Linked DNA regions of Homo sapiens: region 2 is linked to region 1. Evidence: fine-mapped expression QTL. Tissue or cell type: whole blood. Region 1 holds a variant in brackets; the other region holds the start of a gene. All regions are shown on one strand. Distances are between the middles of the regions.

Evidence for each region. PIP is the estimated chance that this variant, and not a neighbour inherited with it, causes the effect.
Region 2: it holds the start of CNPY3, and the variant in region 1 is fine-mapped to the expression of CNPY3 in whole blood (TOPMed, PIP 0.97).

What each region holds. Positions count from the first base shown.
Region 1 is chr6:42,659,194-42,667,294 of GRCh38, reverse strand. UBR2 (ubiquitin protein ligase E3 component n-recognin 2) reads right to left here. Exons shown (of 47, transcript NM_001363705.2): 30 at 7,440-7,639; 31 at 5,018-5,111; 32 at 3,876-4,037; 33 at 1,783-1,886; 34 at 1,050-1,128. It also overlaps the pseudogene RNU6-890P. Among named protein-coding and RNA genes, the nearest start is that of PRPH2, 59 kb to the left of the region's middle. The variant G/A (reference allele first, on the strand shown) is at 3,761.
Region 2 is chr6:42,924,609-42,932,709 of GRCh38, reverse strand. CNPY3 (canopy FGF signaling regulator 3) reads right to left here and starts at 3,230. Exons shown (of 6, transcript NM_006586.5): 1 at 2,989-3,230. The coding sequence starts at 3,139. PTCRA (pre T cell antigen receptor alpha) reads right to left here. Exons shown (of 4, transcript NM_138296.3): 4 at 6,872-7,449. The coding sequence ends at 7,028. It overlaps CNPY3-GNMT (CNPY3-GNMT readthrough), which reads right to left and starts at 3,230. Exons shown (of 5, transcript NR_134892.2): 1 at 2,989-3,230. RefSeq lists enhancers at 2,512-2,621, 2,932-3,191, 2,834-3,335, 3,642-3,691, 3,702-3,751 and 1 more.

The DNA.
Region 1 (8,101 bases):
GCATGATCTTGGCTCATTGCAACCTCTGCCTCCCAAGTTCAAGCGATTCTCCTGCCTCAGCCCCCCAAGTAGCTGGGATTACAAGCGTGCACCACCACGCCTGGCTAATTTTTGTATTTTTAGTAGAGACAGGGTTTCATCATGTTGGCTAGACTGGTCTTGAATTCCTGACCTCAAGTGATCTGCCCGCCATGGCCTCCCAAAGTCCTGGGATTATAGGCATGATGTTTTTTTCTATTCAAGTCTTTAGGTCTGTATTTATTGAGTTACTTGGTACATGCCAGGCACAGCTTTCAGGTAGCTCTACGTACATTATGTCACTTTATCCTAATAACACCTATGAATTATCCTCACTTGACAGATGAGGGAATTGAGGTACACAGAGGTCAAGCAATTTGCCCAAAGTTGCACAGCTAATAAGTGGTGGTGCTGGGAACTGAATCAACCAGTCTAGCTCCAGAATCTATGCTATACCTTGTAACTAACTGGCTATGGGGTAAAATAGGGTGGAAAATATTCTGGTTTTAATCCTGGGTTACTAAGAGCTTGGTTAGGTCATTAATAGAAATTTTGAAGTCAGACGGAAGTGCGGGATTCATTGGGGAGGCTGAGCAGTTTGTATTTAGAATTACTGATTAGATGTTGTCAAGGAGAGCCAGGTAAAGAAAGGGGTGTGGCAGGGGTCAGCAATGCTGACTAGGAGAGGGTGGTGAGAGTTAAACATGCCACATGGTTCTTAGATTTTTTTAATGTACTGCAATAAATACCATCAAGTAATGCTTAAACTTTTTTTGTTGTTGTTGTTGAGACAGGGTCTCACTCTGTCACCCAGACTGGAATGTAGTGGTGCAATGAAGGCTCACTGCAGCCTCCACCTCTGGGGCTCACACTATCCTCCTGTCTCAGCCTCTGCTTAAACCTTACAACTAAAGATCAGTATCCTATAACATTTTGCTCCCTCACTTGCCAAATCATATTCCTCCTAACTGCTGACTTAATCATTCATTTCAAATGGGTCAAATATTAAAGGAGTAAAATAATATACTCACTTAGGACGAAAATCAGGCCTGAACCCTTCAGGGAGCTGTAATTCATCCACATTTTCTGAATTCTTTGTAGAGGCATTATCTATAGAAACAGGCATTTTATACTATTATTCAATAGATGACAATATTCCTAAAAGTACAGCCATATAGGTCAAAGAAATCAAAAACAAAAGGAAAAAAATTCCCTAATAAAAACTGGCATAACAACCATATGAAGCATGAAAACGTTATTGCTCTAGTTGACCAAGGCCCTTTCTTAACTATGCTTTTCCTTATAGTACAGCCACTAAAACAAAAACAAGAGTAGCTATTCTGTTTCTATGAAAACCAATGATATAAATCCTGTTCATACTACGTTCCCACAAGGTCATAAGTGCAGTGCATGGTCTATGAAACTTGGGAAGCCTTTGGTAATGCCAACAGTAAGGTGAGTTAGCCCACCGAGAACTAAAGCTAGCTCTGCAACACTCAGTTACATCTCCCCCACCTCCAGAAGCTCTTCAATAAAATGGGGGAATAAGTGAGAAGTGTTTATTAGAAACTTCACATGAGCTTGTGTGTTTAAGGAATAAGGAGTAATGCAGTAAAGTCAAATTTAGTTTATTAAGACAAGGAAAATTAGAATGAGTCAAAATTTTAAATGGGAGGTTTCACTTTTAAACAACTTCTTCTGGAAATACATTTTCTGATGACCTCGGACTTTAGGGAAAAATGAAAACAGGTTACCAGAACTTACTAGGAGTACTTTCTTCTTTCCTAAGAAACTGTAATGCTTTTATTTGCTGAGATATTGTTCTAATCCACTGAGTCAGATTTGGTTGGTCTGAAAAATTTAACCTGCTAGAAAAGATTATAGAGAGTATTTAGTGTTTTATTATTGTTCCTTAAGATACAAAAGACTCCTTAAATGATCACAGGCATATTTTAGACACACTCCAAATATTAAAAACAAAAAGGATAAGGGAAAATTTGTTGCATTAAAAAAAATCAGGATATTGGCCAATGGAAAGGAATATATTATTTGTCAATATGATGGTAATAACACTGTGTATTAAAAATCTCACTCTTCAGTATTGGAATTTGCTAGAATTTCTTAAGTATCATAATCACCATCACTATTAATATCTACCAAGTGCTTATTATGTTACAAGCACTTAGTAAGGAATTTTACTGTAAATATCTTATGGTATTAGACTTAATCCTCAAAATATCCCTACATTTTGTTTCAGGTTGTATTATTATTTGCATAGGTTGTATTCCTATATTTTGTAATAGGTTTTATTATTGTCCCCATTTTACAGATGAGGAAACTGAGGTTTAGAGCTATGTAACTTGACTAAGGCCGAATAAGGGACAAAGCTAGCATTCAAACTTGGCTCTGTCAGATTCCAAAGCCTGTGTTCTTTTTATGATTGTATTCGAATATGACTAAACCATAATTGAATCTCATGGGCAAAACCCAAAAATTGGACCAATAAAGTGACAGATGAAATCCAACAAGGGTGATTTCTTCTTATACACAGTTAATCCTCCATCTAACAATAATTAATTTCTTCATCAGTTCAAATGCAGATAAGTCAGTACCACGATATTCTTTTATAATTAAAAAGCATGAGCTTACACTCAAATCTACTAATATTTTAAGAACATTTTGTGGTAGCATAGACTAAGAACACCAAAGTTTGAACTCCTAAAACTGACAAGAAAAAACTGACTTTGCTTTGAACTGAATCCAAATAACACAGAAATGGATCGTTTATACTCACATAACTTAGTATTTGTGCATGCAACGTAGATAGCATAATTCTACATTGAGAAATGAAGTTCAGATTCGAAAAGCAGACATTATCAAATTCATACTCGAAATGAGTATGTCCAATACTCGTAACTAAAAGCATCCAAAAAACTGTGAAGTTACAGAAATTTTCCATTTTCTTTTCTTATTTTTTTTTAGTCTGCTAGACAAATTCTAAAAGAGCTAAAAATATGGAACACTTCATGAATTTGTGTGTCATCCTTGTGAAAGAGCCATGCTTATCTTCTCTTTATCGTTCCAATTTTAGTATATGTGCTGCTGAAGCAAGCACTTATTTTATTTTTGAGACAGGGTCTTGCTCTGTCACTCAGGCTGAAGTGCAATGGCATGATCAAAGCTCACTGCAGCCTTGACCCAAGCGAGCCTCCCACCTGAGTCTCTGAAGTAGCTGGGACTATAGGAATATGCCGCTACATCCAGCTAACTTTTTATTTTTTGTACAGACAGGGTCTCACTATGTTGCCCAGGCTGGTCTTGAACTCCTGGGCTCAAATGATCCTTTCATCTTGGCCTCTCAAAGTGCTAGGATTATAGATGTGAGCCACAACGCCCAGCTGAGATTTTTCCATTTAAAATATACCAACAGATTTTCACTTTTTTGCCTGGTTCTTAAAACTATGAATGGCCAGTACAGCAAAAAGTTTTATTCGATTTTTAGACTGTCCTATAAAGTCAGTTTGAGTTGTTCCATCTCCCTCTACCAGTTTACTGAGCATCTCTTGAAAAGTGTATGGAAGATATTAAAAGTAGGGTCCCTAGAAATAAACCAGATACTTGGTTTTCATAAATACATAGGAATTTAATAGCTTAGAAACTGTTAAATTTTCACCTGTTCCTCTCTAAAAACTAAAATCACATTCCACAGGTCTGCTAGAAGAAAATGATTAGAGTTTGGAAA[G/A]TATCTGGAAAACACTATGCAATTGCCTAGACTAAGTTTTCCTCCTTGATTTATTATTTCATTATCTTCAAAGCAAACTATTGCTTTGTAATAGTTGTCATGAGCCAAAACTTACTTGTTAAAAATATTTCTTGGAGGAAGCAGCAGAGGAATAACAGTATTACTCAAGCATTCACAAAGGGGGCAAAGGAATTCTCCGTTTTCTACATCATAGCTCGTATGTAAGCGTAATCTCTGTTGCCTTCGCTGTTCTTTAGCTTGAACGGAATCAAAATACCTTTACAATTAGAGAACATGAGGTATCAAAACAATGGTAATTTACATAAATGACAGCCATAAGCTTCAACATTTAAAATAATTTGTTTCCACAAATAGTTCAAAAATGAAAATCTTAAACTAAATTATTTTTAACATGATTTTTGAGTGATTTTAAAAATCCAAATGGATTAAAAGTTCTAAAAGAGTAAAATAAAAAAAAAGACTGCCATGTAAAAAAGCATTCACAAAGCAGCAACAAAAATTTCTTGGTGTCATTGTTCTCTTGCCACTTCCCCAAGGCTGGTGGCTATTTGTTTTTTTTTTGTTGTTGTTGTTGTTTTTGAGATGGAGTCTTGCTCTGTCGCCCAGGCTGGAGTGCAGTTGCACAATCTTGGTTCACTGCAACCTCCACCTCCCACATTCAAGCAATTCTCCTGTCTCAGCCTCCCAAGTAGCTGGGACTACAATGTGGTGGCTAGTTGTTAGGGGTAGTTCATGATAACTGGGTGAGCATAGTTCTAGAATAATAGTATTATTGATTTGTTGGTTTTGTAGAAGCATAGGAAACACCAAGGTAGAACAAATTCAGGACATCTCATCACAGGGAGCCATTACAATTTTGGGAAGTAACAAAGCAAGTACTAACATCTATGGAATCAAAAGTTGTCCACCCTGGACCCAAAGAAAGACAACATTACCCTTCTAGAGTTTATCCTACTGTAAAAACCCTTTTCTTCATCCACAGACTGATACAGATCCACTTCCTTCTTTGGAAGATATAGAAGAGACTTGGATATAAAGCTAAATTAAAAAACATATCTGACATACACTTTACATCTATGACAAGGCAAATAACTTTTGTTATTTATTAGGCAATGATACGGATTTTTTCAACATTTTTAGTTCTTTTCCTTTTTTCTAGAATGAAATTTCCTCTATTTAAAAAATATTGAGCCCTTAGATAAACTTCTCTTGACAAATATTAAGAATATACATTACCTTTGCCAACAATGGGCATGCATAATGTGCCCACAGCTACTAGTGTGTGTTCCACAAGACAGATCAGGGTGCATGAATAATGGATCATATTTTTCTGCATTACAAAACAAAACAAAACAAAACAAAAGTGAAGCATTTAATTTTCCTATAACAAATGTGTAACTTTAAATTGTAAAATCCTTGATAAAGACTTGAAATTTGAAATGAAATGCTAGTTTATTCCTCTGAGATACCAATTTATGCAACACCTTGGATTATTTAGAAAGTAGGACTCTCTAATTTTCACCACCCACAGCAAATTAATTAAACATTCTCAAATTGTTAAACTGAAATTAGAACTATGAATTTAAATATATCCAATCTTTTGAACATTTCACACTTTCAGGGTGCTGAGATATTCCAATTCCTCCCATTGTACCCTGAGCTCCAGGTAAAAGAGCTACTCTCTTCATGGGGCTGCCTTATGTGCGTTCAGGGCAGCTGGGTTAAAATGATCGCTAATAAAAAATGTTTTGGCAGTAACGGGGCGCCCCCTAGAGGACAGACTGCCTAACAACACTCATACAGCGAATAATCACATCAGAGCCAAAGTGACAACAAAAAATCTAAGCACAGACCAGATCAGATGGGGGGAAAAAAGGTAATTCAGAGTCTTCTGTCCTGGTGCTAATTTTTATATTCAAAGGGGATGAAAAATCATGAAAAACAAGATGGATGTCTGGCTTCTTTTGGAATTTTTGAATTCTTTATATAAATTAGTATAATCTTCGAAATTTCCTAACACTCTAGAAAGAACTACTTTTAATTTGCTTTAATAGTTTTAATTTGCTTTAACACTAGAACAGTGCAAATGTCAAAGCATTAAGAAAATCCACTTATAGCCAGCTAATGCTTTTTCTTCAGAAGTAATAAGTTAAATAAAATTAGCAACTTTGTCTTTGGCCTGGAATGAAATTTATAAAGCACCTAGTTTAAATATCTTTTTTTTTTTTAAGACAGTCTCGCTTTGTCGCCCAGATTGGAGTGCAGTGGCGCGATCTCGACTCACTGCAAGCTCTGCTTCCTGGGTTCACGCCATTCTCCTGCCTCAGCCTCCCGAGTAGCAGGTAACTGCCACCACGCCTGGCTAATTTTTTTTTGTATTTTTTAGTAGAGATGGGGTTTCACTGTGTTAGCCAGGATGGTCTTGATCTCCTGACCTTGTGATCTGCCTGCCTTGGCCTCCCAGAGTGCTGGGATTACAGACATGAGCCACTGCGCCTGGCCTTTTTTTTTTTTTTTAAAAACAAACAAACAAACAAACAAAAAAACCACACAGGGTCTCGCTCCGTTGCCCAGGCTGGAGGGCAGTGGTGCAATCTCGGCTCACTGCAACCTCTGCCTCCCAGGTTCAAGCAATTCTCATGCCTCAGCCTCTTGAGTAGCTGGGACTACAGGCGCGTGCCACCAAATTTGGCTAGTTTTTTTTTTGTACTATTAGTAGAGATGGGGTTTCGCCATGTTGGCCAGGCTGGTCTTGAACTCCTGACCTCAGGTGATCCACCTGCCTCGGCCTCCCAAAGTGCTGGGATTACAGGCATGAGCCACCATACCCAGCCTAAATGACCATTTTTAAAGATGAAGCAGACCAACCTTTCATAAGTAGGATGCAAAGACTTTCTTTACAGAGAGAAGGCAACTCTAAAAGTGGGCTCTCAAACCTCCTTTCACGCTGCAGTGTGAAAGGCACTGGTTAAAGCAGTGCTCTGGGAATTCCCAAGACACAGTTCCTACTCTCAAGAAGTTTACTGGGTATCGCTGAAGCACACGCACACAGAGCACAACCTACAAGCAGAGAAATAAATGTGTCTGTGGTGGACAAAATCATGTGCGGACTGGATCTCCCTGCTTTACTCCCTCAGTTGCTGAAAGAGGGCCCTCAACTGTCCTGCACGGTAATCTGTATCCCAAGAATCTGCTTTCTGGGGAACCCGATCTGTGGTGGTATTACTATTCTAAAACAATTTGGCTCAAGGATTGCCTCTTACATAGGTAACTCTCCATCACTGTTCTCAGGAGATTCCACTCAGGCTCTATCAATAAGACAAAACAATTATTATTTCAGTGTGTCAACAAATGACCAGGACTTTGCAAGTGTACTGAAGGATGGAAAAGACTGTGAAATGCCAAAGTATGTAATGTTACATCACAAAGAAAAGCTTTTCTTTGAATCCCTGCTATTTATCAGCTATGTGATTCAGGTGCAACTTTCTGGAGTGGTTCCACATCTGCCAAGTGGGGAATTCCTGCCTAAGTTACCTGCCAAAGATACCATCCAAGTCCATGGAGTTATTTTTAGGTTTAAAAAATCTCAACGTATCACCAACCACATTAACTGGCAGTTGTTATTAAAAGGGAAGATGAGGATCTAGCTATGACTTACCTGGATCTTGAATAAATTTACTTCTGTTTTTTGATAATACAGTTGATCTCTGAACAAATGCTGCCAAGACCATTGCCCTGCTTTCCACTTTAACTTCTTGCTCCTCTTGACACAATATACATGTAACGAATTGTCTTTGTTCAGGAACCTGAGTTTGTGCGGGGCCCAGTGCTGTAAGTGTCATATCTGAAGCCACAGGGCTGCAATACAAAGGTTATGAATATAATTAATGATCCCAAAACTTTCTATATAATCACAAAATAGCAGACTACAGGTATGTGTGTGTGTGTGTAGTGTGTGTGTGTGTGTGTGTGTGTGTGTGTGTGTGTGTGTGTATATATATTTATTTATTTTTTGAGACAGAGTCTTGCTCTGTCACCCAGGCTGGGGTGAGTGGCACAATCTTGGCTCACTGCAACCTCCGCCTCGCAGGTTCAAGCAATTCTCCTGACTCAGCCTCCTGAGTAGCTGGGATTATAGGCATGCACCACCACACCCGGCTAATTTTTTTTTTTTGTATTTTTAGTAGAGATGGGGTTTCACCATGTTGGTCAGGCTGGTCTCGAACTCCTCACCTTGTGATCCGCCCGCCTTGGCCTCCCGAAGTGCTGGGATTACAGGCGTGAGCCACCACGCACAGCCAGGAATGTATATATTTAACA
Region 2 (8,101 bases), 270 kb before region 1:
CAGCTCTCCATCCAGGACCATCTGGGCTCCCTCCCCTCTTCTGTCCTGTACTCTGTGCAGGCACATCATTTTTCTAGCACCACTTGCCCCTCCTCCCACGCCCTCCCCAGGAGTGGGGAAAGGGGAGGTTTGGAACATCCTTTCTCTCTCATACCCATCAACCACAGCCTTGCTTTCCAGCTCTTCCAAACATTACCTCTTCAAGACCTCCTCTGCGGATCCCACCCAGAACCAGACTCACAGGAGATTCACGGCACAGACACCAGACCCTCACTGACATCCACCCACTCTTTTTTTCCGGGCAGGTTCTCCTTCCTCTGTGCCGAGGCCTGTTCCACTCAGGCTACTGAGCCAGGAGGCAGGCTTGGTGGGCTAGACACAGTCAGCATTTAATAACAAAGGTGTAATAATAATACAAACAAATATACTATTAAGATGAACCTAACGGTTGGAGTTTGCCAAGCCATCCTGTGACTGCAAATCCCTTTTCAATTAATCTTCATCAGTTACCAAATGAGGGTAGACTAGAATGATCTCTAGATATAGAGATATAGAGATCCTGGGCATCTCTATGCTTCCGTGAGTCTGTGAATGTTGCCTAAGGAGAATAAATGTGAGCTCCTTAGGCTATGAGAATAATAAGAGGGAGAGTATGGGCTCTTTGATATCAGAATAAGACAGAATACAGGCTGGGCACGGAGGCTCATGCCTGTAATCCCAGCAATTTGGAAGGCTGAGGTGGGAGGATCACCTGAGGTCAGGAGTTCAAGACCAACCTGGCCAACATGGTGAAACCCAGTCTCTACAAAAATACAAAAATTACCCGGGCATGATGGCAGGTGCCTGTAATCCCAGCTATTCAGGAGGTTGAGGCAGGAGAATCACTTGAACCCTGGAGGCAGAGGTTGCAGTGAGCCGAGGTTGTGCCATTGCACTCCAGCCTGGGCAACAGAGCAAGACTCCGTCTCAAAAAAAAATAATAATAATAATAATAAGACAGAAAAGAAAGAGAAGAGGAAGCGAAACGCTGAAAGGCTATCAGTTAGCTGGGCTGGGTGCAGTGGCTCACGCCTGTAATCCCAGCACTTTGGGAGGCTAAGGTGGGTGGATCACCCGAGTTCAGGAGTTCAAGACCAGCCTGGCCAACATGGTGAAAACCCGTCTCTACTAAAAATAGCCGGGAGTGGTGGCACACACCTGTAGTCCCACCTACTCGGGAGGCTGAGGTAGAAGAATCCTTGAACCTGGGGGACGGAGGTTGCAGCGAGTCAAGGTCGCACCACTGCACTCCAGACTGGGCAGAGCAAGACTCCGTCTCAAAAAAAAAAAAAAGGCCAGGCACGGTGGCTCATGCCTGTAATCCCAATACTTTGTAAGGCCGAGGAGGGTGGGTCACTGGAGGTTGCGGTGAGCCAAGATCGCGCCACTGCATTCCAGCCTGGGCAATAAGAGCGAAACTCCATCTCAAAAAAAAAAAAAAAAGCTATCAGGACTAGAGGAAGAGCGAAAAGTGAAAGGGCGGCCAGGAGCAGAGGCTCACGCCTATAAGCCCAGCACTGTGGGAGCCCAAGGCAGGTGGATCACTTGAGGTCAGGAGTTCAAGACCAGCCTGACCAATATGATGAAATCCCATCTCTACTAAAAACACAAAAATTAGCTGGGCATGGTGGCATGCGCCTGTAATCCCAGCTACTCAGGAGGCTGAGACAGGAAAATCGTTTGAACCTAGGAGGCAGAGGTTGCAATAAGCCGAGATCTCGCCACTGCACTCCAGCCTGGGCAACAGAGCCAGACAGTCTCATAAAAAAAAAAAAGGAAAAAAAGAAAAGAATGTACGGGGGAAGGCACAGGCTTGAACTCATACTGGGTGCCCTACCAGTGAAGTCGGCTTATCTCTAAAGCATCCTTTTAATCTCTCTAATGGAAGGATTATGTGTCCGAAACTTACCCCAAACCCACTTTCCAGTGTTTAGGGAACATCTGGCCTGATGTAGGCTTTCAATTCAGATGAGAGATTCACAGCCAACTTTCTGGGGGCCCTGGGGTTACGGGGCTAGGAAGGCAGGCATGACTGTAAGGTCTGAGGAGAAAACTAAGGGACGGAGTTGAGGAAAAAGAAATAGGTCCTTTATAGTCCTGGCTCGCTGGTAGCTCCCTCTCTCTCTCTCTCTGTAGTTCCTCAACGCCTATGTCTTTGGGACTCACCTTTTCTCCAAAGTCCTAAAATCTTCTTTCAAGTTCCCCATAGGCTCTATTGTTCCCCCAAAGGGCTCCTCAGATCCAGATCCTCCTCCTCACACACACCCACAGTCTCCCATTTAATCATCTGTATTCTCAAAACATTTATTGAGTGCCTACCAGACACTGTGTGAATACGTATCTAAGACAAAAATTCCTGCCTTCGAGGAGTTGTTAGTGGGTGCAACAGACAACTACACAGATTGGGTTGCAGTGAGGGCAAAAGGGGAAAGTCTTAGGTTTTTTTCCCCCAAGATGAGTCATCTGGAGCTTTTCAGTTCCTCAAACTCGTTCTTAGCTTCTCAGCCGGCAGGCCTCTGCCTCTGTAGTTTCCTGAGTGGGCCCCTCTCTTTCCACTTCTCTTCATCCGGCTAACTCCTAATGCCTCTTCGTGCTTCCTGTATGAAGCCCTCTTTGACTCCCCTCTGCACACAGCCTTCGCCCACCCCCTCCCCCACTCCAGGCTAGACCAGATGCTCCTCGTCCGGCCCCCAAAAGGAAGCTCTGTACCTCCCCTATCATGGCATCTACTACTCTGAATTATCATTGCTTGTTTCTACCAATGTGTGAACTCCAGGGGTACCGGGACCAGATCTCTCGTCCGCCGCAGCGTCCCGGCGCAAGCCTGTTCAAGGAAGGAAGACACCCTGCAGAGCTCGGAACCTTGCAACCCCCGACGCTGCTCCGCAAGCACCACCGCTGGAGCCAGCCCCTCCGGCAGGATACGCCCCACGGGCCCCGCCTCCTCACCTTCGCATTTGCTGGGCAGGCGAACCCAGTCGTTCTCCTCAGCTCCGGCCTGGCTCGGGCCCAGCTCCGGGGCCGGCAGCAGCAGCAGCAGCAGCAGCAGCAAGGGAAGAAGCAGAAGACAGCGGGACGCGGGCTCAGGCATTGAATCCATGGCCCGGCCGGGCCCGGACCCTAAAGGACCGGGCGGTTCCTCCTCCCGCGGCGCGCGCGGAGCAGTTTCCCCTCGCCGCTTCCGGGACTGCACACGTGCCTCCGAGCAACCACGACAACAGCTAGCCTCCCGCCCGCCCTCCTCTCGCAGCCGCAGCCCGCCTTCAAAGCGGACCAAGGCCCGCGGACGGCGCAGCCAATAGGCTTTCTGGGGTTTGCTCTCTAGCTAATGGGAAGACTATCTTTTTACGCCCTTGGCCAGTAAGAGAGCAGATGGTGGCCTCAGCGACCTATGGCAAAGTCCTTTCCCACCCCCTAACGGAGGCTCTGGGAGAGAGAGGATGCAGGACCAAGACCCGAGAAGAAGCCTGCGTCTGGGCCTGGGTGGGACGGATTCAGGCGCGCAGGTGCTGGAAGATGTGGGGAAGGCCGTCTTCGCGGCTTTCTCCGCCTCCTCGAACGTCACTTCCCTCCTGGGGTCCTAATGCCGCAAGTCCTTACTGAACATCTGTTTTTAAATTTTATTATTGGTATTGTGGTTGTTATAGCCGGGCACTCTTGTAGGCGCTTAAGGTGCAAGCAGGACGACTCAAACTGTCCCCAGCCTTCACACTTTTTTAGTAGCCAGTAGATTTGTCCTAGTGAGAACTAGAACAAATGACTTCCTCTCTGAGCCTGTTTCTATTTGTATGACGACAAAGTGATCCTCCTAGCTGCTGTGGGAGCTTGCCTGTTGTTGGGAAGCTCAAATAGGTTAATAGAATTAAAGCTTATCGAGCAGATTGTAAAAAGTTCAGGCATTAATTTTCTTTTTGTATGTAATCCCAGCCCCTTTTACTGCCCTATTATTTATTTCTTGATTCTGAGCTCTCAGAAGGCAGAAATTTAGCCGATTAACGATTGTCTCTCCCTTCCGCTTCCCCAGCAACAACAGGGTGCCTGGCACAAGGAGATACTCAGTAAAACTCTCATCTGCTGTGTCATTAAGGGGAACACTTAATGGCTCACGCCTGTAATCCCAGCACTTTGGGAGGCCGAGGCGGAAGGATCACCTGAGCCCAGGAGTTGGAGACCAGCCTGGGCAACAGATTGAGACCCTGTCTCAACAAAGAAGAAGAAGAAGAAAAAGGCCAGGCGCCGTGGCTAATGTCTGTAATCCCAGCACTTTGGGAGGCCAAGAAGGGAGAACTGCTTGAGGCCAGGAGTTCGAGACCAGCCTGGTCAACATAGCGAGACACCCCCCCCATCTCAAAAATAAATAAATCAAAATAAAAAATAAAGAGGAGGCCGGGCTTGGTGGCTCACGCCTATAATTCCAGCACTTTGGAAGGCCGAGGTAGGTGGATCACGAGGTCAGGAGTTCAAGACCAGCCTGGCCAAGATGCTGAAACCCCATCTCTACTAAAGATACAAAAAGTTAGCCGGGCGTGGTGGCACACGCCTGTAATCCCAGCTACTCGGGAGGTGGAGGCAGGAGAATTGCTTGAACCTGGGAGATGGAGGTTGCAGTGAGCCGAGATCACGCCATTGCACTCCAGCCTGGGCGACAGGGCAAGACTCCATCTCAAAAATAATAAATGCCGGGCGCGATGGTTCATGCCTGTATTTCCAGCACTTTGGGAGGCCAAGGCGGGCAGATCACAAGGTCAGGAATTCGAGACCAGCCTGGCCAATATGGTGAAACCCTGTCTCTACTAAAAATACAAAAAAAAATAGCCGTGGTGGTGGGTGCCTGTAGTCCCAGCTACTTGGGAGGCTGAGGCGGGAGAATTGCTTGAACCCTGGAGGTGGAGGTTGCAGTGAGCCGAGATCGCGCCACTGCACTCCAGCCTGGCGACAGAGCGAGACTCCGTCTCAAAAAATAAAAATAAACAAATAAAAATAAAGAGGAGCACTCTTGGTCTTCTTTAGGCTGCCCCTGAACTCAGTGTCCTACAGACGCACACAGACCAAAGTTGCTTCTCTGGGAAGTTGTCTGCAAATTGGCCATAAAACCCTGTTCCCTGATACCTTCTTGTTTCCTTCCTAGAGGTTGGATATTTATGCTATTTTATGAAGACTTCAGAGCACTGAGGCCCAGGCCTTGCCACTTTCTGACTTTAGTTTCTTGTCCAAAACTGTGTTGGTAACAAAGCACTTTGGATAGGCAGGGGCTGTGGCATGTGGAATTCCACAGTGTACAAGATCAGGACACCCTCCTAAGGTCCTCCATGTTTTCTAGGCTTGATAAGACTTAGGTTGGCTCAAGCTGGGCACAGTGGCTCACACTTATAATTCCAGCACTTCGGGAGGCCAAGGCAGGCGGATCACTTGAGGTCAGAAGTTCAAGACCAGCCTGGCCAATGTGGTGAAACCCTGTCTCTACCAAAAAATACAAAAATGAGCCAGGCATGGTGGCGTGTGCCTGTAGTCCCAGCTACTTGAGAGGCTGAGGTGGGAGAATTGCTGGAACCTGGGAGACAGAGATTGCAGAGAGTTGAGATCGCACCACTGCACTCCACCCTGGGGGACAGAGTGAGACCCTATCTCAAAAAATAAAATAATAAAATAAAATATAAAATAAAATAAAATAAAATACTTGGGTAGGCTCAGAGCTTGGCCATGGCCCTTGATTCACCTCGGCTCAGAAGCCCTCCTGGGAAATAAGATTAAGCCAGCCTGACAGTGGAGATTGAGAAGCCTGGGCTCAGCATCTGGCCGGACAGCTAGGAAGGGATAGTGGCCAGAGAAAGTCTGAGGCTATAGTTGGGCCCCTGCCCACACCCTCCCTCAGTCTGTGTGTCAGAGAAGGAACATGCCTTGTGGGGATGGTGGACAGATTCATCCGTAGAAGCTATGGGACCCTCCCACCCCAGCCACCAGCACCCAAGAATCCCCAAAACAAGTGGGAGAATCTCCTTTCAGGCTGGTGAGAGATGAGCAGTGGAGGAGGCAGTGAGAGTTTTTATGGAACAGTAGCTGAGAGAGCACAGAGGCTCAGGGGAGCTGAGGGTGTCCTTGAAACCATGTGTTGGGGTGCTGGGGCATAGTTCCCCATCCCCTCCCTGGGGGAAGGAAGACTAAAGTTGATCCAGCAGACTATCCTATGGGGCCCAAGGGACAGGTGGATTTACATGACAGCACCCAGAGTCTCTTGGAGTGATTACTAGCAGAGAACCCTTGGGAAAGTCTGGATTTCCTGCCAGCGCTGGGCAAGCAGGGGACGCACACGTTATGCTCTACTGTGGAAGCCTCATACTTGATCAATACAAGAATCTTCTTTATGTAACAACCAGACCAAAAAAGCCAAACCTCTTTAGTACCTGGCTCAGGGTTGATACTTAAAGAATATTTGTCAAATGAATAATGACTCTTAATTGATTAATAAACTGTAAGTTTGGAATTAATATCTCATACTCTTGTTATTGAAAACGATCCTGTTCCCCAGAAACCCTGGCCCTGTTCACCTCTGTACGAGAGTTCACATCAGACCCACCACCCACCTTCCTGGGTTCCTGGGCTCTCTGCCCTGACCTCTCACAGAGGTTGGGCCAGGGTGAGGAGAAGAGGGGGCCTCCCCGCTTGCTGTTGGGGGAGGAGACAGCCGCCTTCCCAGCCACCAGTCCCACTCTGCAGTTCCCAAGTTCTGTCTCAGGAAGCCCTCTTCCTCAAGGGAGCTTTCCTGGATTTTTCCTACTTCTAACTCTGCCAAATTCCTTCCTCCCAGGATAGACATGAATTCAAATATTTTTCATTTGCTGTGTCATTTAAGTTCTTTTTTAATGTTCTCAGTCATCTGCTCCCTAAATGCCCCTGTAACTGGGTGGATCACCATTCTCAAGGGGCCCCCTTTTGGATGGCAGAGACACAGCCTCACACAGTGTGACGCAGGGGAGGTAGAGCCCTGCCCTCAGGCAGCTCCAGCCTGCAGAGGAGGAGGCAGGTCACCTGCAAAAAATGCTCCAAGACTGGAGGAAGGAGCCCTGAGGGCAGATCTTGAGCACCAGGCCTGTGCTGGGCAAGTGGGGTAACTGCTGAGGTAAGACCCTTCCCCCCATACTGGGCTCCCGGGCTTCCGACCCGGAGGGGTGTCACCCCAGCGGCGGTCCCGAGGCTGGGGTCTGGGTGAGCTGGTGGCCTCTCGTCCCCCAGTCTCCGTGGCCGGGTGCAGTCGATGGGAGCCGAGGGCTCGCAGGCGGGTGGTGGTTGCGGGGGAAGGCAGCGGGCCCGCGGGGTCGCACAGGCAGCTGCAGGTCAGGAGCAGGTCAAACAGCAGCAGCTTGAAGAGCAGCAGCCGCAGGACCCCCAGCCACAGCGCCCCACCCGGTGTCCCTGCGAGGAGGAACCGCTCAGGAGCCCGCAGGAGCCCGCAGCCCCCTACCCCAGGAGAGAACGGCGGAGAGGGCCTTGTCCTCTGCCCTTGCCCGTCCCCTTCACCCCCTCCTCCAGGGAAAGTCCTTCCCGGTGTCTAGCCTCCGTTCTTACTGGTAATAATACATACCTTCCTGGCCTTCATTTTATTTTATTCCCCAACAATCATGGGGGTAGGGGTGGGGGCCACGCAGGAATTAATTAGCATCTGATGCAGAGAGTAACTAGCTCAAAATTCTTTTTTTTTTTTTTAGATGGAGTCTCACTCTGTCACCCAGGCTGGAGGGCAGTGGCACGATCTCATCTCACTGCAACCTCCACCTCCCGGGTTCAAGTGATTCTTCTACCTCAGCCTCCTGAGTAGCTGGGACTACAGGCGTGTGCCATCACGCTCGGCTAATTTTTGTATTTTTAGTAGAGACGGGGTTTCACCATGTTGGCCAGGCTGGTCTCGAACTCCTGACCTCGTGATCCACCCACCTCGGCCTCCCAAAGTGCTGGGATTACAGGTGTGAGCCACCGCACCCGGCCTCAAAATTCTCTATTTGGTCGGGAAGCAGAGTTGGACCACAGCCCAACTTCATGACTGTCCGTCCAGGCTCTTTCCATCACC